Regions from separate parts of the Homo sapiens genome. Here all the other regions are reported to be linked to region 3. Evidence: microRNA targets listed by miRTarBase, many of them from high-throughput screens and not tested one by one. Region 3 holds a microRNA gene; each other region holds the end of a gene's coding sequence.

Region 1 (4,078 bases), not on the chromosome of region 3:
GTGAAAATGTTTACCACTTTAAAAAAGGAAAAGGTTGACATTAGCTTTTATTTTAATCCCAAGATATCATCAAGCAAGACATTAGCTTTTTGACCATCCTTGGTGTCCATGTCAGAGTCTTCATGGCACATAACGAGCTCAGCTCTAAACCCAAGGTATGAACATAATAAGATGGATAGGAGTTAAAAGATGAGATGGTACAAGTATTCGAGACACTGGGTTCAAGCTCTAGTATCACTAGTGTGTTTAAATCTGATTCCTTAAGACACCTAAATCTTTGCAAAGACACAGGATGATCTGCATTTAAAAATCACTTAGTTTTATTTTGTTGAATAAAGCCATATACCTTGATAGAACATCTTCAATTAAGTGATGGCTCAGAAACTGTATATGAATTCAGAGAATGTTGAGACCTTAGGCTTCAAAATACTGAGAATTCAATCTTTCATTTGAAAGAATAATATCTATCCAGTGAAGTTCCAATTATAGATTTCATAATGAATTCTATTTATTGCTTCCTGGACCTGTCAATTCCATTAATGGATGAATATCTCTTCTGAATCATAACTGAGGAAGAAATGCCACTATTTTACCAATGATATTTATATCAGAAACAATAAGACAATGAGCCCATTCTGCTTGTATGCATTGGTCATTTTACGCACATCAATTGGGATTCTGGGAAAAATACTGATATAATAAAAATGCACATGGATATTAAGATAAAATTATATGCTTTTCATTTCAGACAAATCAATGGGGGTAGGAGGAAGAATACAGCTCTGATTTTATAGTGCAATGGCTAGCAAGTGGGGTAGTCGGAAAGACAGGAACCAATAAATTGTCGCAATCCTACTAATCATACAAAACCAAGATTATAAGGGCAAACACATACAATAAAAATAACTTTATATATGCTTTGAAGCATATTATATTGACTAAAGTATAACATACAAAATAAAAGAACTATACTGGTCTAATTTGGGGATATTAAAATATTACTTGGTTTACATAAAGTACAAACTCTTTTGTATTTGAAGAACATAACTCTTGGTTCAAAGACAAAATGCATAAATAAACCAATTAGTTCAAATTTGCTTTGAAAGGCTAAAAAAACTAAACCAAACCTGTTACTTAAAATACTTGGTTTGCTCAAGCCAGAGTATACTTAGAGTTTAAGTTTAAAAAGAATGAATTAACAGAACTTTAGGAATATACATTATTCCATCCAATAATGAATTCTATGTCTTTTACACCATATTACTGCACTGTACAATCTTTGAAACTTAAAATAATAACTTCAATTTTACTTTTTAAAATGTAGCTCTTTGGTAAGAATGATTATAAATACCAGGTGAGATTCTTCCCTAGTCCAACATGTGAGAATTTTCAGATACAAAACAAATGTGAAATTTTGGTATCATCTTATTATAAAACAAACACATTTTGATGACGCTGATATATCTCAAAATATATTTGAAATGCTTCCTTTGGAAATACACATGAAGCGTCATTAGGATATATTCACAATTCATTTCAGTCAGTTTTATCCAGTTTAAGTACTTACTACTCAACTTTTTACATGTTTTATTTTAGTTTCAGGGCATACATGTGCCGGTTTGCTATATGGGTGTATTGCACAATGCTGAGGTTTGGACTTCCAGTGAACCCATCAATCAAATAGTGAACATAGTATGCAACAGGTAGTGTTTCAACCCTCATTTCCTTCCCACTTCCCCTCTTTTGGAATCCCTAGTGTCTACTGTTTCCATTTTTATTTCCATGAGTACTCATTGTTCAGCTCCCGCTTATAAAAGAACATCTGGTATTTCATTTTCTGTTTCTGAGTTAGTTCACTTAGGATAATGGCCTCCAGTTTCATCCATGTTGCTTCAAAGAACATAGTTTCATTCTTTTTTTACGGCTGCATGGTATTCTATGGTGTATACATACCACATTTTCTTTATCCAATCAACCACTGATGGCCACTTAGGTTGACCCCATGACTTTGCCACTGTGAATACTGCTTCAATAACAGATGAGTGCAGGTCTCTTTTTGATACAATGATTGCCTTTCATTTGGATTGATACCTAATGATGAAACTGCTCAGTCAAGTGGTAGTTCTATTTTTAGTTCTTTGAGGAATCTCCATACTGTTTTCCATAGGACTGGAAGTAATTTACATCCTCAGCAGTGTATAAGCATTCCTTTCCTTTTAAAACATGGCTATTTCCAAAATATTTAAATCTACACCCAAAGACAGGAATTTGCTATATTAAAATTTTCAGATGACTGTGAACCTTAAAAGCCCTGAAAGTTATTCCAAAAGAAGAGTTTCAAACTTGCTTTCAACAGTGTTAACAGCACTGAAACATAAAGACAGCCTCTTAAGAGTTATATGGAAAAGCATGTATTCATTTATTTGAAAAGACAAAAAAACTACCTTTATCTCTTACACATTTTACAATCTTGACCCTTCATTTTGAACTTTAGATGTAAAAGGCATCAAAAAGAGTTTTACTTTTTTTCATTTCCCTTGAATGTTTCATTCAAATTATCCGTTTTGGCCAGTAAAACAAAAATATTTCTAATTCTAGAAACTACAAATTTAAAACAAGTCCTATTTAACAAAGGCATACATGATACCTGTAGACCTGATTTGAGAGGGAAAGATTCTGATTTTTGGAAATGACAGAAAAAGAATTTTAATTTGGGAGAAACCATTAAGCGTCCATAAAACTTTAAATACACTCACACATAGGCAACACAAATAAATTGCTTACTCTGCTGAACTTTCAAAATGTATTTTAATCTCATTCCAAAAAGAAATAAAATTTCTAGATACAAATACATCTCATTCAAGTCACTTTTTAACATACATTCTGCAACTTAAAATATTATAAGGATTCAATATTTTCATCTTTTATAATCTCAATATATTATATATTTAATATATAATATATATACAATACATACAGGTAGTCAGCAGGTTTACAAAGTAATTTCTTTAAAGTCTGATCAGTATTGATAAATATTTTAGCCTATTAAAAGGAACTAGTTAGGATCACAGAATAAAACAAAATATGGCAGGTCCAAACCTAATGGCAAGATTACAAATGTTCATATGGCCAATCATTTTAAAAGAACTCTCAAGTTGGGTGGAATATGTTTTAAAACAATACTCTTGCTATTCTCAAGCAGCAGTAGTTATATATTTTAACCATATTCATCTCCATTAAATTTAAAATAACTATGCAGCTTTCTTTACTGTAATATACAGTAGCTATCTCTTCCTTTCTGTTGGATTTTATTGTTTCAAGAGTAACTAATAAATTACCAACAGAAGAGACTTTAGCCCCTTTCCCTCCCCTAAAGCATGGCTCAGTTTGAAGATTGTTCTATAGGCAGCCACTATGACTATCAACAGTACCATAAAACCATTAAAAGCAATCAATAACTAGAGTCATGTGAGATGTTTCAAAGACTGCTGGAGGTTTCTGTAAACCAGGGTAATCAGAAATATTACCCTTGTAGATAGCCCTCTCATACCAGTAAATACAAAGAGTTAAAATTCCAATGCCACAGTGTAACAGTTAACAATCTATTTTGTAATTTTAAATATTACTACATTAATTCACCCTGAGAATACAGAGGAAACATTTAATACAAGACATTCTGATATGTTTTTTTTTTCCCATTGTATTTGCTTTCTTCTGGTTTTCATCAGCCCTTTAAGGGCACAGATATTTTAATTTAAAGGGTGATTTGGATATGCTTTTTTGTTAACTGAGATTCATGCCACAGTCAGATACTGGTGATAGAAAAGCCCAAAAAGGCTTGTAGAAAAGAGGCAAGCAGCAATCCACCAGGTCAGAAAAGACAGAAGTCCTCGAAAAAGAAGAGGAGTAAAAATATTTTTTAAGCTGCTCAGTGCCACTGTTATTTGTGTAACAGTTACCTTCATTTTCCCTTCAGCTGATGGTAATTCAGAGTAAACAGAATTGGACAGTAGACTATTATCCACTGGTAAGGTAGAGATAGATTCTGGATAAATACCCCAGGAATGATTACCTAGAA
Region 2 (4,078 bases), not on the chromosome of region 3:
GCTAGCAAAGTTCATCTCAGGTACAGTACAAGTTACTTTTCTGTTCGATTAGTGACCTCATACTTCCCCCATCTAAAGGACACCTTAGACTTCAGCATTCTGTCTGTGCAGAAATCTCCTACACCCATCCTGCCTCCCTGCCCAAGCTTGTGAAAAGCTTGCTGCAGATGCTGCAGGGGGATAGGGATCCACATAGCCCTGCAAGGCCTTCAGGAGCTTCTGGGGGCTGCTTTGTGTGTGAGCTGCACTTGGCCAAGCCAAGCTCTGGCAGTTGCAGTGGCTGCTCCCTGTGGCTTCCTATCCCTCATTCATGCTCCATATCTCCTCAGTAACCATCTGGCAAAAAGCTTCGTGGCAACACCTGGCTCAGAAGCCGATATCATCCCAGACTAAGCTCTGCCCTCCAGGGTTGCACGTGTGGGTTTGCTCCCTGGTTCTTGGCCTTATACCTGAATGTGTCTCAGAGCACTTGGCCTGCTCTCTTGGCCTGCCAACTATGTTCTAGGAGGGCTCTGTGCTCCAGGCTGTGATTTGGACAACTGGCTGGTGGCCCTCAGCCAGTGAAAGGCCTCTTTCCACACACCTGGGGACTGGCAGTCACACCTCAGTGGCACTGACAGAGGCCTGCTTCAAGGCAGATGCCTATTCCAAAGGAAATCCAGCTTGACAAGGCTTGGGAGACCCCAGGAGGGTGCCACAATGTGGCCCCTTCTGGGCTATAGCAGACAGACTCTAGAATGGCTCCCTTGACCCCCACCTGCTGGTATGCATGCCCTTGTGTGATCTCACCTTGAGTGTGTGCAGGACCTGTGCCTTGTTGTAACCAATAGAATACAGAGGTAAGGGGATGTCACTCCTGTGACACCTTGTGATCATGTGACATAAGATTATAACATTATCAAGGAATAGCAGTCTATCCCTTGCTAGCTTTAAAAAGTGAGCTGCTAGGCTATGAGCTGTCCTATGAAGAGGCCCATGTAGCAGGGTACTGGGGTTGCCTCCAGCCCCCAACTAGCAAGAAACTGGGGCCCTCAATCATCCCATCCACAAGGAGTTGAGTGTGGCTAGCAACAACGTGAGCTTCAGAAGTGGCTGCTTTCCTGGTCATACCTGAAGGGGAGACCACAGCCCCAGCTGACATCTTGATTGTAGCCTAATGGGACCTTGAGCAGAGAACCCAACAAAGCCACACTTGGGCTCCTGATCCACAGAAACTGGGAGATCATAAATGTGTGTTGTTTTAAGTTGCTAATTTGTAGTGATGTTCTTATGCAGCATAGATAACTCATACACAGAGAACCAAGGCCACGCGAGAACCCTGTGGGGGCCCCTGCTGCTCAGCCACTCCTCACATGCTGGGACAGCTGTCTCTCTGGCCTCTAGCACCAAGGTCCCCACTATCCCAGGCCTTGACTCTTGGATCAGAGAGGGACAAAAGCCCCATGGAGCCAAGCAGACTCCTCCCCCTGGGCTGCACTCACCTAGCTTGTCTGGCACACACAAGTTGGAGTAGAGAAGGCAGGAAGCCCTGGGAAGGGAGAGGGTGATGGCCTTGCTTAACTGGGATGAGTGTCCACCAAATTTCCCTTCCCACTTCCCCTGCTCATGAGCCCCCAGGGGACCTGTGTCAGTTCACTTTCTAGAGGCTTCTATGTGCCCTAACTTGGATGACACCCACGGGCCTCCCCAACTCAGCACAGGGAACATATGCCCATGGTGGCATGGGGAAAGAACCCAGCCTCTCCCCTGCCCAGGCTCCTGCACCCCATAGCTGTCACCCCTCTGGAACCTCTCAGGGCAGCACGAGTGGTAGCCTCGGAGTGGCCTTCACCCTCCAGGCACTGCGGTCCTCCAGATTGGCTCACAGCCCAGCTCTTGCTCCCATATCCACAGCCATGAGAGCAGCCACCTCCCCAGGGGGCCATAAGCGCTTCTCACCAGGAGCCCACCTAGGCCAGGAGGGAGCTGGGGGCAAGTTCCAACTGCCCCCTTGAACACTGCATACCCATGAATCTGGCAGGGGCATCTGGGAAGAGATTTGACCACTGAAAGACTGTAGGGAAACCCTTGAACCTCAATCCGCTACGCCACGTGGATTTGCTTCCTGTGGGCTGCCCAAGAGCGCCTCTGTGGTGAAGGAAGCTTCTGAGGATGGGCCACTAAAGATGGCCAAGGTCACCTTTCTGTGCTGTCCCCACTCTGCACTCCATCTCCCATCCCACACTGCCTCCAGCTGGAGGGAGGGAGGGAGGGTTGTACGTCTGTGTCCCTGCCACACTGTGAACTCAGCCCTATCTTCCTTGTCTTCCTCACAGCCTCTGGCTCAGAGGAGGACCTGGACAAATGGATGATAGGTAGGCAACCACCCAAATGTTCCTCATTGACTGTTCTCTAGAGCTGCTTAGTAGAGACCAGGAGTGTGTGGGAGGAAAGCCCTGGTAAACTTCGACCCTGAGACAGAAGACCTCAGCAGCCTTCAGCATGGGATGCAGCACTTTCTTTATTGCCCATCCAGGGAACAGCCAAGCCAGCTCCATCTGCATTCTGGCTGCAGCGTGTACATTAGGGGACTCAGGGGCCACAGTGTGGGACCGTGCACACTGGCAAGGCACTGGCGGATGCTGGCAGGCCAGTGGACATGGATAGATGAGAATGACAACTCACAGATGTCCTAGCTTCTGCTGGCCCAGCTGCCAGCCACTGGCCATCACCCTTTTGCCCAGCATGTGTGCATTGTCACCCAAAACATCTTGAAACTTGCCATTAGTGAGGCATTCAACAAAGAAGTAAGCTAAGTGAGTAGGAAACAGTGTTTCCTGGAATATACCGCACTCTGCCTGAAATAGGAAAACTATGTTTGCCGGGAAGCAGCAGCAGCAGGAAAGAAGTTATACCAAAAACGACTTGTACACCACAGACATTATAACCCTTTCCTCAAAGAAACAGTCATGTTCTGTTGGGTATTATGGACAGGTCTCTGGAAATTTATCTAATAAAGACCAACAAACTTCCCCAGCAGTGCCTCTGAGTACCGTGTGAATTCTGGTGTCTTGTGGAAGTCAGGGTGCCTTCTTTGCATCCAAAGCTTTGAGGGAGCTGGGAAGCTTTGGTTCCATTTTAGGAGGGCTGTGTGATGGTGACAAAGGTGTTCTGGTCATTTCTGCTCTGTTCTCCGTTCTGTGAAGTGAGGTGGATGTAATGTGCTGTGGGATGGGGTGCTCCATATGTGTGTGTAGCCTTTACTTTCCAACTTAGTTTTTTGCATCTCTCTTGTACTGATGAGCCATACCTCTCAGCCTTCATTTGGTCCCAGGCCTGACCCTTTGCTTTCATCGTCAGCTTTTCTGTCCTGCTCGGGCAGGATTAACTCTGTTCTTGCCGCGGATGTCACCATCACTCTGGAGTCCAGCCCAGTGCCCACAGGCCCGATCAGTTCACCCTCTTCCTTCTCTTCAGGGGAGAAACTTTCTCGGGCATCAAAAAACGTGATTGTTTCTTCTTGAAGTTTTTGTTCTTCCAGCTCTGCCCCATCTTCGGTGCTTTTGCTTTTCTTGGTAGGAGATGAGGAGAACCCTAATTTGGGAAATCGGAACCAGCCTGCCTTCTCCTGTTTTTTAGGCAGTTCTGCCTCTGGTCGTGCCTCAGGCTGTGTTTGAATGGGAGCAGATCTCTGGACGTCATTTTTGGAATCAACACCTGTCTCATCAACAGAAGAGGAAAACCCAATGTTTGGAAGCCAAAACCAGAGCAGACCAGATTTTTTACTTTCTGGTTTGTCTTTTGGAGCCCTGCCTTCATCTGCCAGTGGTGTGGTTGCCTCTTGGCTATCATCAGGGGGAAACTCAAGAATTTCTGCTGGCTCCTCATCTGAACAGCTGTCTGCAAGCTGGTGGCCAGAAGGAACTTCAAATGTGAGTGTTTGCTGTCCCAGTACATTGACGCTGGAAGAGATCATCTCAAATGGTTCTCCAGTGTCAGGCTGGAGATCTCCAGAAATGGAGTCTACTCCTGGGGTGGCTTGTATGGGAGCCTCTTCTGTGCCCTCCTGAGTCCTAGAGTGTTGAGTCATTGTTGTGTA
Region 3 (4,078 bases):
GAGGTGCGTGCTGGGGTGGGGTTGGCTTTGTCAGTCTTGGAATTGGGGGGATGATTGGAGAGGCTTTCTCTTATACCCCTAAACTGCAGCCCCCCAGACGGAAACCAAAGGCTGAGACCAGAGAGCCCCCCAACATCCCCAGCCGTTAGGATAGTGTTTAATTTCTCTTTCACCCCCCACAAAGGCTCTGCCGAGGTAGGAGCTGGGGGCAACTGTTAGTTTGGGGGCTATGGAGGGTGGTGGAGGAGCAGGAGGCCTTGGCAAGATTTGATGGAGGGCAGATAGGGGTGTCCGGGAGGGGTCTGGCATCTTCGGGGGCCTAAAAAGACTGCTTACATACACCACCTTGGATCTTTCAGATTGCTAAGAGTTTTGGGGGGTGTGTCGGAAGAGGGGGTGGTAAAAGATGCGATGGGATATAGGAAGATAACTTCTGGATTTTAGGGGGTCATATTTTGATTTGCAAAAGGAGTTTTGGCCCTTGGATTTTGCTTTCTGAGGGGTGTTTTTAAAAAATCAAGTCCTGGACAGGAGAAAAGGGCTGAGGGAAGGCCTGGAGTTGGGGGTGGGGAGAGGCATGTTTGTCTCAGCTTAAACGTGGCTCTCTGGGGTGGGCCCGCCTGCCCTGGCCTGGTGGATGGGCTGATGGAGGTTGCTGTGGGGGCCGGCTCGGGTCCTCAGGGGCCCTGGGGAGTGGGAACAGCACTGGGGGTTGAATACCTGGCCCCCCAGGTCCAGATGGCCCTCTTCCTGGGCTCTGCTGCTCCCCTTCCCCCTGGTCTCCATTTCCTGCCTTTGGCCTCCATCTTGTGGCAGGCCCAGGGCCCAGGGCGACTTCCGGCCCCCCTCTCCCAACCATGTTCCGGCCCCACCACCTCTGGACTGCCAACTCCCAACCCTGCTGGCCTTGGCCCTCTGTCTCTCCTTGCTTTTCTCTTGGGTTCTGACCCAGGGAGAGGAAGGACGGACACAGGAAGCCTTGGGTCCCTGCCCTTGCTGAGACAGGAGGCAGTGTGTTGGCCCCTCCAGTCATTCCCTATTTCTTCTGCCTCTGACCCCACCCTAGGGATCCCCTGAGCTGAGTTCCTACAGAGGGAAGATGGTCCAATCTTACTACACTGTGAGCTCATCCCCATGGTCCGTCGCCTTCCAGTTGCCTGCTCAGCCCGTCCCTGGTTCCTCCCAAACGTTTTTGGGGGCCATGTTTGCCTTTTAAGGCTTCTCTATCCCCCCGCTCCTGGAGGTGGTGCTGGGGTCTTCCCAGCACTGCTATGTGCTCTCTTCCTTTCAACCCACCCCGGTCCTGCTCCCGCCCCAGCAGCACACTGTGGTTTGTACGGCACTGTGGCCACGTCCAAACCACACTGTGGTGTTAGAGCGAGGGTGGGGGAGGCACCGCCGAGGCTTGGCCCTGGGAGGCCATCCTGGAGAAGTGACACAAAAAACATCTGGGGCCTTGTGACAAACTTCTTGCCAGGTGGGCAAGGAGAGGGTGGGGTATGTAAGCACCCCTCTAAAATCTCCAGGGCAGTTTCAAGAATACTGATGGCCAGAGACCCTGGGAGTAAGTTCTGCCTCAAGAGAACAAAGTGGAGTCTTTGTTGCCCACACCCAGCTTCCCTGGCTCTAGCAGCACAGAAATATTGGCACAGGGAAGCGAGTCTGCCAATATTGGCTGTGCTGCTCCAGGCAGGGTGGTGAAAACTACCGAGGAGGGGCTGAGCCCCCATGGGCCGAGGAGAGAAGAGGGAACAGGCCTCTCCTGCTAATAATGTTAAGCAGACAGCACGAAGCTGAGAGGGAAATCTTTATTGTTTTCTGTATAAAAATGTCCATCAGATGAAGGTCAAAGGGGTTGGGGGCAGATGCTTATGCGGGAATAGCGAGGTGGCAGCCCCAGCAGCCTTTCAGCCCTCTCTCGTGCAGGCCTTGCTCGGAGTCCCAGGAGATCCACAGGTCCGGCATGAACAGTGAGAGGTCAGAGGTGGAAGGCTCAGCAGGAGAGGAGAGGAGGATCAGCAGAGGTCATGAGAAGGCCAGAATCCAGGGTCAGGCTGTCTGGAACAGGAAGTAAAATGGGCCGAGATGGAGCGAGCCCCCAGTGTGCTTCCAAGGCCACTCCCACCTCCCTGAAACACCCTGCTACGTACTGATCCAATGCCCTGCGCTGTGTATGAGAGCACCTTCTCTTCTGAAACCCCTATACAAGGGAGGGGCCCCTGCGGAGACCGTGCCCTGCCATCCAGGTGAGCCCTTTCTCCCCAACCCCGTCAGCTGTGTGGGAGGAGGAGGACTCCTACCCTGGTCGAAGTTGAGTTTCTTAGCTGGAGGAGTTTCTCCTAGCCCTTCAATATCCACCACGTCACTGTTGGCATCGGAGTCGTTCAGAGCACTGAGTGTCACATCTGGGAAGGGGGCATAAGCTAGGTTCTAGGTTCCCCTGACAGCCTCTCCCCCAGCCCCAAGCTTCCCAAAGCTTTGTGCCTCCTCTCCCCTCCCCTCTGCCCCTCTCTGGGAACCTCCACAGGGACAGGAAGAGAGACTGACCCTTCTTTGACCCAGGCCCAATTCTCTCACTAAACCTCAGATGGGACCTTTAACCCCTAGGCAGCAACTCCACAGCCCTCACCAGCCTTCTGTTTCTTTATGGGGGGACCCCCGGCCTCAGGGACACTGGAGCTGCTGGGAGGAGGGGCAGCTGGAGGAGGTGACAAGACACCAGATGCCACCTTCTTGGGCCCTTTCTTGGGTGACTCAGCTGGAAGGGGGATGCCAGAATCTTCATATACCTTGCGTTTCACAGTGGCCTTTATCTGGGCCCTGAAGAAAAGAGAGAAGAGGTTAGGAAAGGAGTCATCAGAGAGACTAACAGAAGAGGGGACGGGAGGGGAAGGGGTTCTGGGAGTCCCTTCATAAGAATCCAGGTCGGGGCCCCAACCCATTGGTAGGGTTCTCACTTTCTCGAAGTTTTACACTCACTCAGGATGGATGGAGTGTGGAGAGTGGAGTCCCTGAACTGAGTAGTGGGAAAGGCCCATCTCCTAATTCTCTTCTGGGAGAGACATCAGGTAGAGCTTGGTGATTTACAGGTGGATTGAGATTTACTGATCAACTAGTTCAGGGTCACCATATCCCTGGAAACACTGCAGTGGGGTCCTCAAACATTTATATAAATAACCAGGGGACTTCCATCATCAAATACAATAACAGCATCTCAGGCAACCTAAATTCACATTCTTGGAAGGATTACCACAGCATTTTAGGAACTTCTGACCAACTGTGACAATTCTATTCTTTCAGTCCTCAAGGGGATTCTAAAAAACTAGTGACAAAGTAGGGAAGCAGCTGAGCTGGAAAGGAGTTCTGAGGACGATGGAACCTTGGGTAAGGAGGAAGAAGGCTGCCCACCCGCCCTTTTCTGGCAGCCACCCTCCCTCACACTGTCCGTTCCTTGATGACACAGCTGATGTGATTAAGATCGTCCCCAAATCGCTTCACAGCAGCCCTCAGCATCTCTATTTCCGTCTCCGTCCACTTCGCACTGTCAGAAGGGGAGAGGGGGGATAGCAAAAATGGGAGGGGGGGTGTGGAGCCCGCCCACAGGCTATGCATCCCACAGCCAACCAGCCGCCTCCTTCCGATTTCTGGGACCCCTTCCACGGATGCATAAAGAGGTCCTCCGTAAGGGGAGGCGGAAAGCTCTTGAGGCCCTGCGGGAACCGGGAGGACCCCAATCACAAGAAATCACAACCACCTCCACCTTAGACACCCCTTTCCACCATCAACGTTAAACGGCTGCTGTACACAGCACACTGAAACCAACTCGCCAGGAAGGGCTTTTCAAAACAGACCCACCAACACAGCCTGCAGCCGTCTGGGGGAATTCCATGAACTGGGGTGGTTGGGAGTGGCGGTGGTTTGTGGTCGACCCGTTCGCAGCAGGGAGAACTGTGAAACAGGAGTCTGGGCTATGGGCCTGTCTGTATTTTTATCTGTCATTCATTCCCTCACCCAACGATCATTTATTAACACCGACTCTGTGCTGTGCCACGCACAAAGGGAAACTAATGTCTGTCCC
Region 4 (4,078 bases), not on the chromosome of region 3:
CTCACCACCTTTCTTTCAAATATCCGTTCAGTTCTACCTCATATGCAATTTCTATTCCTGAAAAAGAACAGCCATTAAAGGGGGAAATTGAGAGTTACCTGATGGAGTTACAAGGTGGCGTGCCCTCTTCATCCCAAGATTCTCAAGCATCGTCATCATCTAAGCTAGGGTTGGATCCTCAGATTGGGTCCCTAGATGATGGTGCAGGAGACCTCTCCCTATCCAAAAGCTCTATCTCCATCAGTGACCCCCTAAACACACCAGCATTGGATTTTTCTCAGTTGTTTAATTTCATACCTTTAAATGGTCCTCCCTATAATCCTCTATCAGTGGGGAGCCTTGGAATGAGCTATTCCCAGGAAGAAGCACATTCTTCTGTTTCCCAGCTCCCCCCACAAACACAGGATCTTCAGGATCCTGCAAACACTATAGGGCTTGGGTCTCTGCACTCACTGTCAGCAGCTTTCACCAGCAGTTTAAGCACAAGTACCACCCTCCCACGTTTCCATCAAGCTTTTCAGTAGGATTCTGGGACATGGATTCATTACAGAAATGTATGTGTAGCTGTGCCCTAGATGACCATTTTTATTTTAGTGCCTACTTTAAAACAGTATAAAAATTTCTGCTTTTGTATAATACAAATTTTCATTAAGCCAGTATAAAATAGAAACTAGCTTTTAAACTGAGCTTTGGAACCATTTGTGTTCAGTTAAGTTTACCTGGGTATTTTGTCCTGATTCACTGCCAATTGTCACATTTTAAGACTTTTTTTTTTCCATATAGGAAAGCCATTATTAGTAGTAAACTTTTACAAATCCCATTTTCAAATTACTTTTAGATCTTAAAATTTTCATTTTTGTCTAATAACAGTGGCTCTACCTTTTGACATCTGGCTCATTAAAAAATTTAGCAATAGAATGTAAATTGTATAAAAAGTTTGTGAATAACTCAAGGGTTTAAATTTTCTTACTAGCTTCTAAATGGATTAATAATCAAGTGCTTCAAATGAATTAAGAGTCCAGTTTCGGAAGATAATAAATGTTTGTTAGATACACCATAATTTCAGATCAGTATATTCTGAAGACTCCCTGTTGTCTGGCTAAAATATTTGCCATCTTTATTATGAGCCTTTAAGGAAAACAAACCCTAAACACAAAGCATCAGTATTTATAGCAAAAAGAGACTCTGTTAGGTGACATGGCATTTCGTGTCACTTAATAGTTGGCCCTAAATTAGTACACAGGATATTTTGTCGTGTTTCATCCTTCTTAACATGCTATCTTTTCATTTAATAATAGTAATAGTGTATGGCATTGGGGTCTTCAGAGTCGATATATAGGTAGATCTCTTTAGTCTTTTCCACCTTTCACATCCAAGGGGTGGGTCAAGTGCAGCCAGCAATTTATTTTCATTGTTGGCCCACGGTTAGTCCATAATCTAGAGCCATTGTGGAACTGCAGCCATGAGGTGTGTTTATCCCACAGTGGATTGACTCAGCCTCTGTGGGTGACAGACTTCTAAGCAGGAAGATAGACGTGAAGCACATGGTTACATTTGGGAACTTGTGTAGGGATCATGGCCCCTGTAGCCAGGGTTAAAAACTGGACTTTTTAGAAGTAAAGTAAAAGCATATCGCTTATATCATTTCTTGCTGAATTTGATATGTTTTTCTTTCCCTTAAGAATCAAAAGCAGAAAACAAAAACAACAGTCCTACTCCGATGTTATCTTTCTGATTCAATGTGAATCCATCTTTCCTTGCAATATTTTGGATGGAGAATTTGAAGTTAAATGCATTAGAAAACTACCTGATGAACTACCACAAAGTTTTAAGTGACTAGAAATATATACAGTAAAATCCCACTTTCATGCATCTCTGGGAAATGATAGGAGTATTGCAAATAAGTTGAGTTTGTAGAGGGTAACAAAGTAAAGTAAAACAAACCTATCTTGGTTAACATGAAAATAACAATTGAGAATATATTATATTCACTGAATAATTATAGGCTTTTCCTCACATTAGACAACCAACATAATCTTCTTAAAGGTCTAATTAATATATTTTTCTAAGGGTCAGTTGGGACATTAACCTAAGAAACATATCTATTAAGCACTTGTTAACACCTTATTTTAGGACCCTTTCCGTTGGGGATGGGGGCAAGGGTGGGAGGTTTTTAGAAGAGTATATATCTCTTTAAAAAAAAACAGAAAGAAAAATATTTCTGAGCACTCATTAGCCCTATATGGAAACTTCTTTCCTTTTTGTAGGGCCAGTTATCACTGCAGATTGCAATGTTTACCAAGAATTTCTAAAAATGAGTGCAGATTACTGAATATAATACATTATTTAAAATATTTGGGAGTAGTATAATTTGTGGAGAAATGTAAATTGTAATAATGTAAATGGGGGCTTCAATATATATATATAATACACACACACACACACATGCACACATACCGCACTTCATAGAATCAAAGTTGCTCTCTGAAGGAGCTTTGGCTCCTGATATTTTATCATGCTCCTATATTTTTTTAATCCTTGGAGCAGTAGTTTTTATACTTATGTATTTAAATTTTATTATGAAAAATTACATTTATTAAAAAAGTGTGTTCCAAAGGCATTAAAATTATATATGTTAATAAGGAAGTACATTTTTAAATTTTTCAAACTGCTCCTAGCTTTTGATTAGGAGAATATTTTTTCTGAAAGTAGGCTTTTCGCTCTGCTTCATTACTGCTTCCTTTAGTTTCTATGAAACAGATTGCTTACCTAAATCTTTAGTTGAATGATTAGTGTTCAATATTGCTTTAATCACCATATAAAAGGAAAAAAATTGGTGACAGAGCACAAATAGAAAACCTATTTTTAAATAGAAATCACAAATAGCAAGTGTGGAAGCACTACTTTATTCTGTTTAAAATGTACTTAAGAAGTCATCAAATTAGTGAACTGAGACATTGGCCTTAGTAGGCTGTATTCACTGCTAATTTAAAAAAGGGAGTACCAGGATTTATTAAGTAAAGCATTTTGGAAATGGGGAATAGCGCCATATATGTATGTATGTGTATGTGTGTGTGTGTGTGTGTATATATACACACACACACACATACTTAAATCTTGCCCTGCATGAAATTCAAATACATGGAGGCACATCTTCAGGGCACCAGTGTTAAAATTTTGGAGTCTTAATTTTCATGTGTACACCTCTTTGCCTGTTCCCACCCCCAGACTTGAAATAACACTTCAGAGTAAGAGGGAATTCAGCTAATTTGTTTTTAAAATTGACTGTAGTGGTCACTAAACCCTTTTTGAGAGAATTTCTATTAAAGATGAGGCAGACTCGCTTATTTGAATTGCACAATGTTCTAACAAGGATGTAACACAGAATTGGCTTTTTTTTCCCTAGAAAAAGATTGTTTGTTTCTATGTCAACTAGATATGATTAAAAATAAGTATTGCCAATGCTGTTTTCATTCTCTAGTGGCCAGAATCATTATCCTTGAAATTTCTGGTAGTGCCTTAGCTTGGTTAAAAAAAAAAAAAAAAAAAAAAAAAAGGGATTAACATTAAATAAAAGTAGTTTAGAATTTGGGCCTCAGACAAGATATTGAACCTCATTCAGTTTCACTTCCACATGTATGTACAAGTTAGGTCACCAAACACGGAAGTGTGAGTGTGGAAGGATCTTGGCACTGTAAGCAATGCTATCCATTGATGTATACAAGTACCTTTATAGTTATCGATCACTGTTAAAACTTTCATTTTAAAATCCTATTACCAAGTTCAGTTTTTTAAAACTTCAATTGTCCTGGCTGATTATGCATCACTCTGTGTGCAACTTTTTTATTTCATTTAGTGTTTCTTTCAAGCTGTGTATTTTTGCCTATTTGTTGCTTGTGCTTTATTTTTCTTAGTCATTTGTGGAATATAGTGATATATTGTGTTAATTTGGACAGTAGCGGTTTTTAAAAACCATATACTGACTGAAACATGAGCCAGAGCCGATTGCTTTATTAAGCTAATAATGAATGTTAAAGAGTACATATTTTCAGGATCGTTCATCTAGTGAGCAATACAC
Region 5 (4,000 bases), not on the chromosome of region 3:
AGTCATGCACAATTTTAAATCTCTGTAGTTTCTTCATAAGCTATTTTACTATCTTACTATTTTATAAGCCTTGTGTTGCAGTCAAGTTTTTACCACATTCTATAGACCTTGTCTGTACACCATTTATGAAATGGAAATTTGAATATGACATCTTTTATGCCCTCTACTTACTTTTAAAGCAAAAATATTGTTGAATAGGAACACATAGCTTTTATTTAAACAATGTTTTTTCCCCCTAAATTTCTTGTATGAATACTTACCTTTGCTTAAAAGTGCTTGAGAAATACTGCCCCCCAGGAGGCATTTGACAATGTCTGGAGACATTTTTTGATTGTCATGACTGCGGGGGGAGCATGCTCTGGCATCGGGTAGCTAGAGGCCAGGAATGCTGCTAAACATACCTTCTAGGACAGGGCTGCTGTCCTACAAGGTACAGGACAGCCCCTGCAAGGAAGAATCACCTGGCCCCAAATGACAGTAGCGCCCAGGTTGAGAGACCCTGTCCTGGTGTGATAAATGGTGCAGAGACAAGTGGCTAATGGTTTATAGTAATTCAACTACTCCCTGGAAACAGTGTAAACTAGGCTGATTACCTAAGGCAAGGCTAACCAAAGCTTTCAAGTTCCGTATATGTATGTTTAGCACTTATTTAAGGAAGTACTCACCTAAAGGAGGTGAGACAGAGTAAAAGGAAGGATGTGCTATAATTGTTTGTATAGCACATTGAAAAGCTAGTATTTACATATACAGTACTAACTTTTTTTTTGTTTGTTTGTTTGAGACAGAGTCTTGCCCTGTCACCCAGGCTGGAGTGCAGTGGCGCGATCTCGGCTCACTGAAACCTCTGCCTCCCGGGTTCAAGTGATTCTCCTGCCTCAGCTTCCCGAGTAACTGGGATTACAGGCACCTGCTACTACGCCCAGCTAATTTTTATATTATTAGAGATGGGGTTTCACCATGTTGGCCAGGCTAGTCTCAAACTCCTGACCTCGTGATCCACCGGCCTCAGCCTCCCAAAGTGTTGGGATTACAGGTGTGAGCCACCGTGCCTGGCCACATTGTCTTTTTAAATAGTCATTTTTTTGAGACAGGGTCTTGCTATGTTGCTTAGGCTGGACTTGAACTCCTGGGCTCAAGCGATCTTCCTGTCTCAGTCTCTCAAGTAGCTGGAGCTTCAGGTACACACCAGCACCACTAGCTGTTAAATATTCTTTATCAAGCTAATGACTAGTTTCTCCAGTCTTTTTTTTTTTTTTTTAAATAAAATTTTGTTGGAATGAAGCAGCAAATTCTCACAGCTGTTAAAAGAATTGGACTCTGGCATACCTAACTGGAGAATACCATGCTGTTTTTTCTATAAACCGCTGGCATTTTATGCCTTTTTTGTTTGTTTTGTGTTGTCAACTACAAAGTAATTCTGTAAACAGTACAGATAGCCCTGGACTGCCACCACGGGCCAGGCCAGGGTAGTCAAGGTTGTCCATATGCACATGGGCAGATAACCTGTTTTCCTTTGACATTTTTTTCCAAGTCAAATTCTTGGAGGATTGTGTATTTGTATTATAGGAAGTCCAGATCATAGACTTTTAAAACTAAAAGCATCACTGCTGAACTCCAGCTCAGTCTTCCCATTTTATAATGAGGACTCTGAAGTTTATAGAGGTCAAGGACTTGTCCAAAGCTTTAGATATGTAGTGTCTGTGCCCTTTTCCTCTAAGTTTCTCCTAGAGAATGTGGGGGCTCAGGAACAGAGAAAATAAGGTGCAAAAAGTAGAAATGGGTGGTGTTTCTCAAAGTGTGGTCCATCTGCATCCTAGTGACTGGGGTGCTTGTTAAAATGCAGATTGCTGGGCCTTATCCCAATCTGACCAAATCATCTCAGGATCTACCTTTTGAACAAACTTGCCTAGGTCAAATTCACTCTTGTGGAAGTTTAAGTACTTCAGAAACAAGACAGCCACAGAAGGTGCACCTGCTAATTTGGTGGCTTCCAGTGCCTCATCTGTAACTTCTGGTGAAATCCTGAGATGTCTTACTTTACATTGTTTACATCCCATAACATTCCAACATTTAGAAATTCACTCGAGCTTATTTTTCTTACTTGTTTAGCACTAAATGAAAATAGCTCCCTGAAGTTAAGGAGTTTATATACAGTAATTCATGCAAGTGTGTAAATTAAACAGATGACTTTCCCCCCTAATATCTAATGCACAGCAGCTGTCCTGAAGGAGTGGGAACTTTGGATGAGGGGTAAAGGAGGGGATAACTTTGGACCGCTGGAGAGAAAGTCAGGCTGTAGAGGGCTTCTATAATAATGGTACCACCAGGAGGTGGGAGAGTGGTTCAGTAAGGGAGGAGGAAGGTTGCCAAAGAAATTACTCATCTTTCAGAAATTCACTAGGTTACTGCCAGTCAGCCAAACAAATCCTAGAAGAGAACTGTTGTGCCTCCTAAAAGAGAAAGGAAATTTCCTCCTTTTCCTTCCTCTGGCACAGGATGGGCTTCTAGCAGATGGGATTTTACATGTTATATTCTGAGTTTTAAACAAAATTTTGTGCCTTATTCTCTATATCGCCCCCTCTCCTAACTTAAATGGACATATAGGAGGTATACTCTAAGCTCAGTTATTCAAGCATGTTTTGATCATTAGAGCAAGATGGGGTGTGGAAGGGGCAGCCGTGGTCTAAAAGGAACCAACAACAAATTTTACCTAGTTTATAAATAAAATTATCACTTGGAAGTATCATCTGTGGCAACTTTGGATGAGCAGCATAAATTGAAAAAACCTGTGTTTTGTTTTCCCCTCTTGTTAACATCAATATTCATTAAAATATACACAAGTGGAAGTACTTACATATCAAGCACTTCCACTTCTGTAGTTGCTGTTTAAAGACAAATATTTTAAAGAGAACAGTTTTCCCCCTTAAAATCTGAGAGTATCATATTTTTCTTTAAAAGTTGTCATGCTTGGAAGCATTTCATGTTTCTGACACAATGCAAATTAGAATGTAAACTCTGGGCCAGCCAGTTTAAAGATTACTTTTTTTCCCCCATCATATAAAATAGGTATTTTCCCTATTATTTCCCTACCTGCCCCCCGCACCTCCCCCACCCCCCACAATTTCTTCATTCCAAACTGACCTGCAGTTTTCTCTTAAAATACCAGGTTAGTTTACCTACGACATGATAAAAAAAATATGGGATTTAAAAAGAAATCCATTCACGCAAACAGCAAACCCTGGCTGGGATGCTGCCGGTTCCCACTGCAGGTAGGTCTGCTGGTTCAGCTACTGAGCTCTGTGGTCTCATCAATCTCATCTGGATTTTTGGTCATCTTTTCATATTTTCTTTTGAAGAAGCCGAGCTGTAAAGGTGATGATATAAGAATGTTACCACCCGTGGCTTATTTTGTAAGGTGCCTCTGACCCCCTTGGCTGCCCACGTCCTCTGATGCACCTCTGGGAATCCCTGAGGCTCTGAAGGGAGGTGTGCAGACTGATGACCTGATATCTACCACCTGCTAGAAGGAAATTTATATCCAGAGAGCTCAGCTGCATTGCATAAAGCTACATTTTTCAGCGTCTACTTATTTGAAGCTGAACAAAACATTCAGGGCTCTGGATGAAAGGAAGGTTTAAAAGAAGAAAAATCCTTACTGGTTGTTTTTAATGACATGAGTAAGAAATTATAAACAAATTTGCATTTCTTTTCTCCTTGTGATAGAGAAGGTACCATATAAAACCTGAAGTTGATGTTTTGTAAGCAAATTCAAGGCTGGCCTTCAGGAGCCCTGTATTTTAAAATATAAAGCTTTTCTTACCTTCCATAAAATTGCAACCAGAGCTAACAGCAAAAGGATTCCAGCAATTATACTTCCTATTATAACTCCTGTTGGTACTTCGGCTTTCTCATCAGGTTTCATTATCATCAGGGGAATCTGGAAATGTCAGTTCACAGTTGAGTTATTTTAATACCACAAAAAAGGGGGGAGATGGTCTAG
Region 6 (4,075 bases), not on the chromosome of region 3:
TGTGTGTTAGTAGATTCCTGTTTAAGTTACCAAGTTGCCATCCAAGTAGGCTGTTTCAGTTTCTATTCCCACCAAGAGCGTAAGTTCGTTTCTCAATAATGTTGGTTATAGTTTCACCACCTGTGGGCCAATAACCCATTGCCATTTAAATCTGTATTTTTATTAGTATTATTTTTACATGTTTGCCGGCTCTTTGGATTTGTGTGTATGCAATTCCTGCTAATATTATTTGCCCCTCTTCTTTAGGTTAAATTTTCTTTTTCTTATTGAGAAACAGCAGAGTGTAAGTATGTGGATTCTGGAGTAGACTGAGTGCAAATCTGGGTCTGCCACTTGCTCAACGTGGGACCTCAGAAAAGTGAGCAAAACTTTAGCTTCAACGCTTATTTGATAAGGTCTTATGAAGATGATCTGAGATACTGCATGCAAAACACCAAGAATAACGCCTGGCACATAGTAAATGCTCACAGATAGCCAGTCATAGGAGCTCTTTTGTTTTTCTTTTACTTAATTCCCAATGTGATAACAGTGAACCACTTGTTGGTTCTTTTTATTTTTTTAATTTTGAGGTTTTTTTTTTTTTTTTTTTTAGAGACAGGGTTTCGTTCTGTTGTCCAGTCTGGATTGCAGTGGGGTGATCACAGCTCACTTGTAGTCTTCACCTCCTGGGCTCTAGCAATTCTCTCACTTCAGCCTCACGAGTAGTTGAGACTACAGTCATGTGCCAACATGTTCAGCTAATTTTTTTTTTTTTTTTTTTTTTTGTAGACAGGGCCTTGCTATGTTGCCCAGGCTGGTCTTGAACTCCTGGCCTCAAGTATTCTCCCATCTCAGCCTCCCAAAGTGCTGTGATTACAGGCATGAGCCACTACACTTGCATAGGAGCTCTGTTTTTTATCAATGCCTTATTAAATATGTTATAAATATTCTCCCTTTGTCTGTTGCTTAGTGTTTTGACTCTAGATATTTATCAGATTTTTTAACGCAATCAATTCTGTCATTCTTTTTCCATACAGATTTTATTGTAATCTGATTTTTTATCTGAACCATTTTGTTCAACTGACTGCTCCAAATTTCAATTCACATTTTCTTTATTCTGCTTTATGATTTTGTGGTCAGAATCTTTTTTTTTTTTTTTGAGACAGTCTCGGCTCACTGCAGCCTCTGCCTTCTGGGTTCAAGTGATTCTCCTGCCTTAGCCTCCCAAGTAGTTGGGATTACAGGCACGCACCACCATGCCCAGCTAATTTTTTATATTTTTGGTAGAGACAAGGTTTCACCATGTTGGCCAGGCTGGTCTCAAACTCCTCACTTCAGGTCATCCACCCACCTCAGCCTCCCAAAGCGCTGGGATTACAGGTGTGAGCCACCGTACCCGGCCAAAATCTTTTCTTCTTTGGTCTCACCAGACACCATTCTTGTTTTTCTTTCATAGAAGACAATCATTAGACTTGTCTTTTCTACTTTTCCCCTTAAGAACAGTGTTCAGGCCAGTCGTGGTGGCTCACATCTGTAATCTCAGCACTTTGGGAGGCCGAGGCAGGAGGATCATTTGAGGTCTGGAGTTCAAGACCAGTCTGGCCAACGCAGTGAAATTCCACCTCTACTAAAAATACAAAAATTAGCTGGGCATGGTGGTGTGTGCCTGTAATCCCAGTTTCTCAGGAGGCCGAGGCACGAGAATCACTTGAACCCGGGAAGCAGAGGTTGCGGCGAGCCGAGACTGTGCCACTGCACTCCATCCTGGAGGAGAGAGTGAGACCCTGTTTCAAAAAAAAAAAAAAAAAGAACAGTGTTCTTTTTTCTCTTTCTTCTCTTCCCACATCATATTCCCTGGATGATCTTATTCACTCCAATAGTTTCAACAATCCCCCTTAGGCAGATGACACTGGAAATCTTCAGAGTGACATTTTCTACTGTTTACGGAGTATTTCTAGCTTGAGGTCCCACAATCACCTTAAGCTAAATTTCTTCTAAAGTTGAATTTTATAAATACTATCTATATATTTAGATGATCTCTAAGGAATACTGTTATACTTTTTGTTTAACTTACAATAAATGGTATGTATAGAATATTTTTATGAACAGAAGAATATAAATATTTGTATGCAATATGTGTAGTGGCCTCTGGCAGGACATAAACATTGGTAAAAGTAGTTATGACAGTAGGAAAAGACTTGCTTTTTAACTTTACCTTCTTTATGCATTCTGAATTTTGTACCAAGCTTTTGTGCCCTTTAATGCCTACTCAAAAATAAATGCAAGTCTATAAATAAATACAAGGGACCTTCTTATCAGTCCCATCAAACCTATTCCCTGTTTGGCTGATGATATCACTCATCCATTCAGTATCTGCTAAAGACTTGGGAATTATACTCCCTATCCTCAAATGCACATCCAATTACCATATTCAGTTGAAATGCCTCAGAAATAGATCCTTCATTCACTTATGCATTCAATAGCAGCCCTAAGAACACACAATAAGCCAAACTGGGTAGAGAGAAAAAGATGGATGAGACATTGTCAGCACAGTACCCTCAAGAAGCTCCCAGCCCAGGGATGCAGAGCAACCATGCCACACATTGAAACAGTGCTTCCTAAACAACTGATTCCTTTAGACATTTACAGGTATTTATTTGAGTAAGAGCTCATAAAATATATTTTTATAATATGCACAAGAAAAAATACATTTGAATGAATAAAAAATAAAATGACAGGAGGTGACAGAATTTAGTGTTTATAAATGAGGTCATAAAGAACTTTAATAATTCAGAGAAGAAGTTCAAAGTGTATTTAAAAGTTGAGACCCTGCTTTACAATATTTTATAATTTTAAAAAAAGGCGTTTAAAGGTGATAGGTGACTTAATAATTTTCCACTTTCAAAATGGGTTTCTAGACACTGTTGTTCATGAACCAAAAACAAACAAACAAACAAACAACAACAAAACCCAAACACTTTGGCAAGCAAAGTATTATTAGTACATAGCAGCTTCATAACAGTTTACTTTTTTAATATAAAGATTTTTCAATTTACACTTGTAGGAGTAGAAAAAACTAATATGCTAAGTCTGTAAGCTACGCAGCAAAAATAATGATCTTAATGAAGCCAGAATTCTGTGAAAATGTGCACCACACTGCATATATAGTAGCTGAGTAAATGTAAACCATGTGCTTATTAACTCTTCTATATAAAATATTGAACCCCCAAGTCTCACACATTGCCTCCTATGTCCACATCACTTTTCTGAAGACAGCCTCATGCTTTAAGCCAATATATATTTGCTATTTGAAAAAGTTCTCATCCTCATTACTAAAAATGTTTCTGTAAAGGCCTTAGACATTTTTTTCAGTACCCTAGTAACAAGTCATATCACGATCAATAAATGATCACAGCCTTTCGAAAAAACTACTGAGATTGGAGAATGGGTTTCTGTCTCCAACCCCTGAAAGACGTTGCTGCTTCAAGACCTACAGCTCCAAGAAGACAACTCAGAATTTCTTACTTTTAAAAAAATATTGTCATGAATAACTGAATAATTAGATTTCTAGGAAAATGAGGCTTTTAAATTAAGATTTAGCAAAATCAACTATAATGTATTTACTTCTACTCATTGATGAATGACAGAAATCAGTTAAAGTTTTACATACAAAAGATATAAATACTGCATAATACGTAGTGAATATTGGCACAAACCCTTTCGTACTTAAAGCATAAAATGCAATCAGTAAATCTGATGCTCTTAAGTGTGTTTCTTAAGATGACATCAAAAACCTCTAGATAGCATGGAAATTTCCCGGTTTAAGGCTTTCCAATAGGTTTGTAGCAAGCATCAGGTTGCCAGAGGCGAATATCAACAAGAACTTGATTGAGTTTTTGCATCCAGAGATCCCGCTCTTCTTTAGTATCTGCAGACAGCCAGTTCCTACAGGAACAAACAACCAAAGAGGTCAGAATTCTTCTCCCTCCATTCCATACCCCCATGTACTCTTGCTAGGGAAAAAAATGACTAAATAAACCAGTAAATGAATTACCTTTAACCACCTTTTATGGATGCTAATCCACAGCCACTTAGT
Region 7 (4,078 bases), not on the chromosome of region 3:
GTAGTCCTAGCTCCTTGAGAGGCTGAGATAGGAGGATAGCTTGAGACGAGGAGATTGAGGCTGCAGTGAGCTAAGGTTGCACCAGCCTGGGCAAGAGTTAGATCCTGTCTCAAAAAGAAAAAAAAAAAAAAAAAAAAAAAAAAGAAAGAAAAAACTGAGGCCCAGAGAGGAAAATACCTTGCCCAGGAAGGTGACACAGAGAGTTAATGGCTCTAGTCACAAAGGATAAGCATTTTGACAGATTCATGGACTCTTGGGTAGCTCCATCTTCAGCTCTGAAGACCTCAAAGTCATTTTGTAGCCTGAAGTGCTAATTAAACCAGAAGAATCATGGACTTACTATTTATAGGGAGGAGTGAAGAAATTAGACCATGAAATCTGGGGACACAGAAGGAGATCTTGTCTCTTGAGATTCACATGTAACATCCAACTTTCATATTTTAACAGAACTTGGGTAATGCAGTCTCAATTTTCCTAATACTGGACTTATCTGGGTTGCAGTCTTGATGAACCACACCTACTACAGAGGTTTTTGCACCATAAGATAACCCCACTTCTTCTGGCAGATGCTGCCATTACCCAGTGGACAGGTTTATGATCCTTCCAAACATATCACTTGCTTCAAAAGGACCTAATTCAAAATCATTTTTGTTATTTTGAGAGCTTTAACCAGCAATACACAGTCAATATGCTTTCACTCCATGTACAAGTGAAAAGGACAAAGCAAAGCCATGACTGTTTTTAAGAGACATACCACTTGGGTTCGCAATTATCTCACATTTTTCGTCTTTTTACTGTTCAGCGTGGCTTTCCGTGTACTGCCAAAATCAAATCGCTCTCAGGAGGCCTACTGGTGTGAACAAAGGCGCTAAAATCAAAGAACTTCCAAGTTTTAATCTGTCAGAGATTGGCTGTGAAGTATGGGGGAAGAGTCATTTAATCTCTCTCCATCAGTTCCCACTTCTGTACAATGAGGGTAAAACTATGGCGGCACCTCTCATGGGTACTGTGTGGACTGCCTAATTAAAGCTAATTAAGCCCCTGGAAAGAACCAGAAAATACTACGTAAATGCTGAGTATTTATGTGCCGCTAACAGACACAAAAACTCCCAAGGGACAAGATTCTGTGCCGACAGCACATTCTCTATTGGTGATTACTAATCACCCACTGCTTACAAAGAAAGGCACTGTTTTCAGTAACAGGGTAGTTTAAAAAAAAAATCACACAATGTTGTTCAACAACACCATCTTTATTCAAAAATATATATCTATGAGACATTTCAGAATATACTGCTGCCGCCAACGACAGCCTATACTTCTAAATAGTCCTAAATTAATATACAAATTTAAGCTTTGAAAATATTCTTTAAGAAAAACAAACAAACAAAAACAAGGGAAGATTGAAGACTTTCTGAGGAATATGACCTAAAGGAAAGGTCCTTTGAGGCCTACAGATGCCCTAAGAAAGAAAAAACACAAAAACAAAAACCACCCACCCCACCCACCAAGTCACCTCATACATACAAGGAGGAAAGTTCATTTAAATTAAACAAATGAAGTAAGCACACTTTGGGAGGATGTGGACAGCAGAATTAAGATTTAAAAAACGAAAGCATTTCATCAAAACAAAAAACTAACTTCCTCACAGGAAGTCCACTAGTAACAGGTATTAAGAGGCCAACACATTCATTTACATAATTGCTACAGTTTCATTTCTTAACTTTTGCTGTAATAATTATGCACCAATTGCTGGTCAGAGACTCAGTTGGATAAAACAGAGCAGTGGGCTAAATCCATTCTGCTATATTTTCATCTAGTTGATCAGAGCAAATATCTACGATCCTCTTTTGGCTGGATTGTGGCTGCTCAGATCGCACTTCCTTGGTGAAAGCATAGAGTGTCCCAGATGGGCCTGCTCCAAAACACGCTCATCTAGAAAGCAGCACACCACGGGGGGTGGGGGAGAGGTTGGGGAGTGCAGCAGCAGCAAAGATTACAATTTATCTTGCAATTTTAGTGATGTCACCTATGGCCTCTGGAAGAAAAACCTTATAGACTCATTAATTTAACAGTGACAGAACGACAGGCAGTGTCCATAAGCAAACAACACACAGTCTGAATTCAAATCTGAATAACAGCTCAAACACTACTAGGTTCTACACAGAGTTAAACTGAGTATCTGCTATGACTTTTCATTGTTCTCACTTCATGACAAGCAGGAGAGCTTCTGGAAGGGAAGCCCGTTATGCTTTATAAACATAGGTTATGTTTCAATGTGTTTAACATGTAAAATTACATGTAATTTTTGGTGATCCTGGAAGTAGCAACACAAATTAATGGAGATTACAAAGCCCCCTCCACTGAATTCCTTTTTATATAGTTTGGGTTTCAGCCTCTGGTCTATAACTCCTATTACACTACTGGGGCAAATCGCTTTCTGCCCTTTCCAATGTCAAAAATAAGCCTGCCAAATTAGAATGATTTACAATTGGCAGGCTGAACCTTTACTATAAGCAAGATAAAAATTGTCTCTAACTACATTATATAGTCATAATGTCAGCTGACATGATAATAGAATTAAAACCCCCAATTAATATCCCCAACTCCCCGCTTCCCCTGCCCGAGACGAGCTATTCAATAACATCTGACGCAAGTACTCCCCGTCGTGTGGGGACAAGGACCTGTGCAGTGGCGTGACATGACAGACGGACCTGCTCAGCGTCCTATTTGCAGTGATGTTCGAGTTTAGCCACCGTACTGTGGACATGCACCCAGACAGCGGATTAAACGTTAGTGTGTACCCTACTCCCAGAAGAAAGGGTCCAAGAAACACCCACACAGATCCCAAATGCAGCACACCTGTGTGTGGGGCCTTCATCTTTTGGAGCCCACCAATGCCTGCCATCCCTAACAACTGCCTTCGCACCCACCAGGGATCAAGGCATTCTGTTTTTCGGAACGTGCTCCGACAGTGGAGAAGTGCAGCATGGGAAGGTTGTATCTAGGAACTTGAAGCAAATAAATTCCTTTTAATTCATGCTTGTGATCCCTGTTATTCTGTCTCTGAACTGTGCCTTTATGCTCCAGATTAGCTTTGAATCTTATTGCTAGATTCTCCAATCTGTTTACAAAATAAATGCACCTAATCTTCGTGCATCACTAGGAGAAGCAATGGAAAGGGAGGATCAGAGATTTGGCAAACTCTTTATGGCAACGCTACGACAGCTGTGCCTACAACCTTTTGGGGCAGATGCAGCTGGGAAAGCCAACGTCTCCAGGACAAGTGCCTTAGTGGAAGCCCACACCGAACTTGAACAAGCCCAGCCCAGAAAGGAGAAGCTGCTTTCATGATAAAATGCTGTCATGAGGGACAAGATTCTTTCGAAAGCTTCCAGAAGTACACATGATTTTCATAACTTCTTAGGTATAAGGAGACAGTTAAGAATGGAAAACCAACAGGGGGGCATGAAAATATGAAGTGGGAGAAAAAGTCTGTAGTCTTTGCAAATATGAATATAAACCAGATTCCAGTCGCCACTGTTCTGAACTGTGCTCAAGATGAGAGGCTGAAGAGGAGAATCAGAGTCTGAGGTTCTTTCTTGAGGCTGGGGGGCTGGGCGGAAGAAGGGATAGAACCAGGGGCTAGAAGGTTATTTCCAACCATGACTTGCCCTCTTCTTTCTGCTGGTACAAACAGAAATCTGGGACATGACACCCATCCTAGTCAGTTGAAAACAGGTCCCCAGCAGAGGGCAGGGGGGCTAAGCCCCCTGTGACGTTGGGCAGCAGTGAGAGGTCTGGCAAGCTCTGAATATGGGATTTCAGTTCCTTGCGGACCTGGGTTACTCGTGCAAGCTTCTGTTTGTATTCCTAAGGAGATAAAGAGAAGACAATACCGTTAAGTCTGTGCGTGCCGAGGGCATGGGTGCTGCTGGAGCCGGGCAGCTACTCTCGTCCTCGTGTTCTTCCTTGTCCCCACCAGCCTGCCCACCCTGTTCAGCTATATCACAAAGCTAGGGCTTCAAATGCTCAAAAGGCAAAACTTTCTATCAAAAAAGGAACGCAGAGTGCCATATTG

Evidence for each region. The annotated mature microRNA hsa-miR-497-5p reads CAGCAGCACACUGUGGUUUGU and lies in region 3 at 1,316-1,336, shown strand. An mRNA with a match to its seed (bases 2 to 7 or 8) in the 3' UTR can be bound and repressed. Matches are read on the target gene's strand: a 7mer-m8 pairs with bases 2 to 8, a 7mer-A1 pairs with bases 2 to 7 and ends in A, and an 8mer does both.
Region 1: the mRNA of TMEM161B is a reported target of hsa-miR-497-5p. Seed matches in the 3' UTR shown: 7mer-m8 at 3,198-3,204.
Region 2: the mRNA of AHNAK2 is a reported target of hsa-miR-497-5p. Seed matches in the 3' UTR shown: 7mer-m8 at 2,873-2,879, 7mer-m8 at 2,870-2,876 and 7mer-m8 at 2,867-2,873.
Region 4: the mRNA of PLAG1 is a reported target of hsa-miR-497-5p. The part of its 3' UTR that is shown has no 7-base or 8-base seed match.
Region 5: miRTarBase lists ITGA2 as a target of hsa-miR-497-5p. Seed matches in the 3' UTR shown: 7mer-m8 at 2,766-2,772 and 7mer-m8 at 1,281-1,287.
Region 6: the mRNA of ANLN is a reported target of hsa-miR-497-5p. Seed matches in the 3' UTR shown: 7mer-A1 at 2,985-2,991.
Region 7: the mRNA of RPRD1B is a reported target of hsa-miR-497-5p. Seed matches in the 3' UTR shown: 7mer-m8 at 1,983-1,989, 7mer-m8 at 1,980-1,986 and 7mer-m8 at 1,939-1,945.

What each region holds. Positions count from the first base shown.
Region 1 is chr5:88,192,417-88,196,494 of GRCh38, forward strand. It overlaps TMEM161B (transmembrane protein 161B), which reads right to left. Exons shown (of 12, transcript NM_153354.5): 12 at 2,631-4,072. The coding sequence ends at 3,795. Among named protein-coding and RNA genes, the nearest start is that of TMEM161B, 74 kb to the right of the region's middle.
Region 2 is chr14:104,934,771-104,938,848 of GRCh38, forward strand. It overlaps AHNAK2 (AHNAK nucleoprotein 2), which reads right to left. Exons shown (of 7, transcript NM_138420.4): 7 at 2,483-4,078. The coding sequence ends at 3,293. It also overlaps a transcript of PLD4 not described here. Among named protein-coding and RNA genes, the nearest start is that of PLD4, 12 kb to the left of the region's middle.
Region 3 is chr17:7,015,237-7,019,314 of GRCh38, reverse strand. It overlaps MIR497 (microRNA 497), which reads left to right and starts at 1,293; the gene lies at 1,293-1,404. BACC1 (BPTF associated chromatin complex component 1) reads right to left here. Exons shown (of 6, transcript NM_174893.4): 3 at 3,440-3,541; 4 at 2,630-2,820; 5 at 2,301-2,405; 6 at 1,795-2,054. The coding sequence ends at 2,050. RNASEK-C17orf49 (RNASEK-C17orf49 readthrough) reads right to left here. Exons shown (of 8, transcript NR_037717.1): 5 at 3,440-3,541; 6 at 2,630-2,820; 7 at 2,301-2,405; 8 at 1,791-2,054. It overlaps MIR497HG (mir-497-195 cluster host gene), which reads left to right. Exons shown (of 3, transcript NR_038310.1): 2 at 1,927-2,246; 3 at 3,301-3,497. It also overlaps MIR195. RefSeq lists enhancers at 587-756, 2,108-3,307, 3,720-4,078.
Region 4 is chr8:56,162,689-56,166,766 of GRCh38, reverse strand. It overlaps PLAG1 (PLAG1 zinc finger), which reads left to right. Exons shown (of 5, transcript NM_002655.3): 5 at 1-4,078. The coding sequence ends at 524. Among named protein-coding and RNA genes, the nearest start is that of PLAG1, 47 kb to the left of the region's middle. RefSeq lists an enhancer at 1-98.
Region 5 is chr5:53,089,883-53,093,882 of GRCh38, reverse strand. ITGA2 (integrin subunit alpha 2) reads right to left here. Exons shown (of 30, transcript NM_002203.4): 29 at 3,821-3,937; 30 at 1-3,364. The coding sequence ends at 3,284. Among named protein-coding and RNA genes, the nearest start is that of MOCS2, 18 kb to the left of the region's middle.
Region 6 is chr7:36,452,326-36,456,400 of GRCh38, reverse strand. It overlaps ANLN (anillin, actin binding protein), which reads right to left. Exons shown (of 24, transcript NM_018685.5): 24 at 2,610-3,924. The coding sequence ends at 3,801. Among named protein-coding and RNA genes, the nearest start is that of ANLN, 65 kb to the right of the region's middle.
Region 7 is chr20:38,089,518-38,093,595 of GRCh38, reverse strand. It overlaps RPRD1B (regulation of nuclear pre-mRNA domain containing 1B), which reads right to left. Exons shown (of 7, transcript NM_021215.4): 7 at 1,232-3,870. The coding sequence ends at 3,721. Among named protein-coding and RNA genes, the nearest start is that of RPRD1B, 58 kb to the right of the region's middle. RefSeq lists a silencer at 395-689.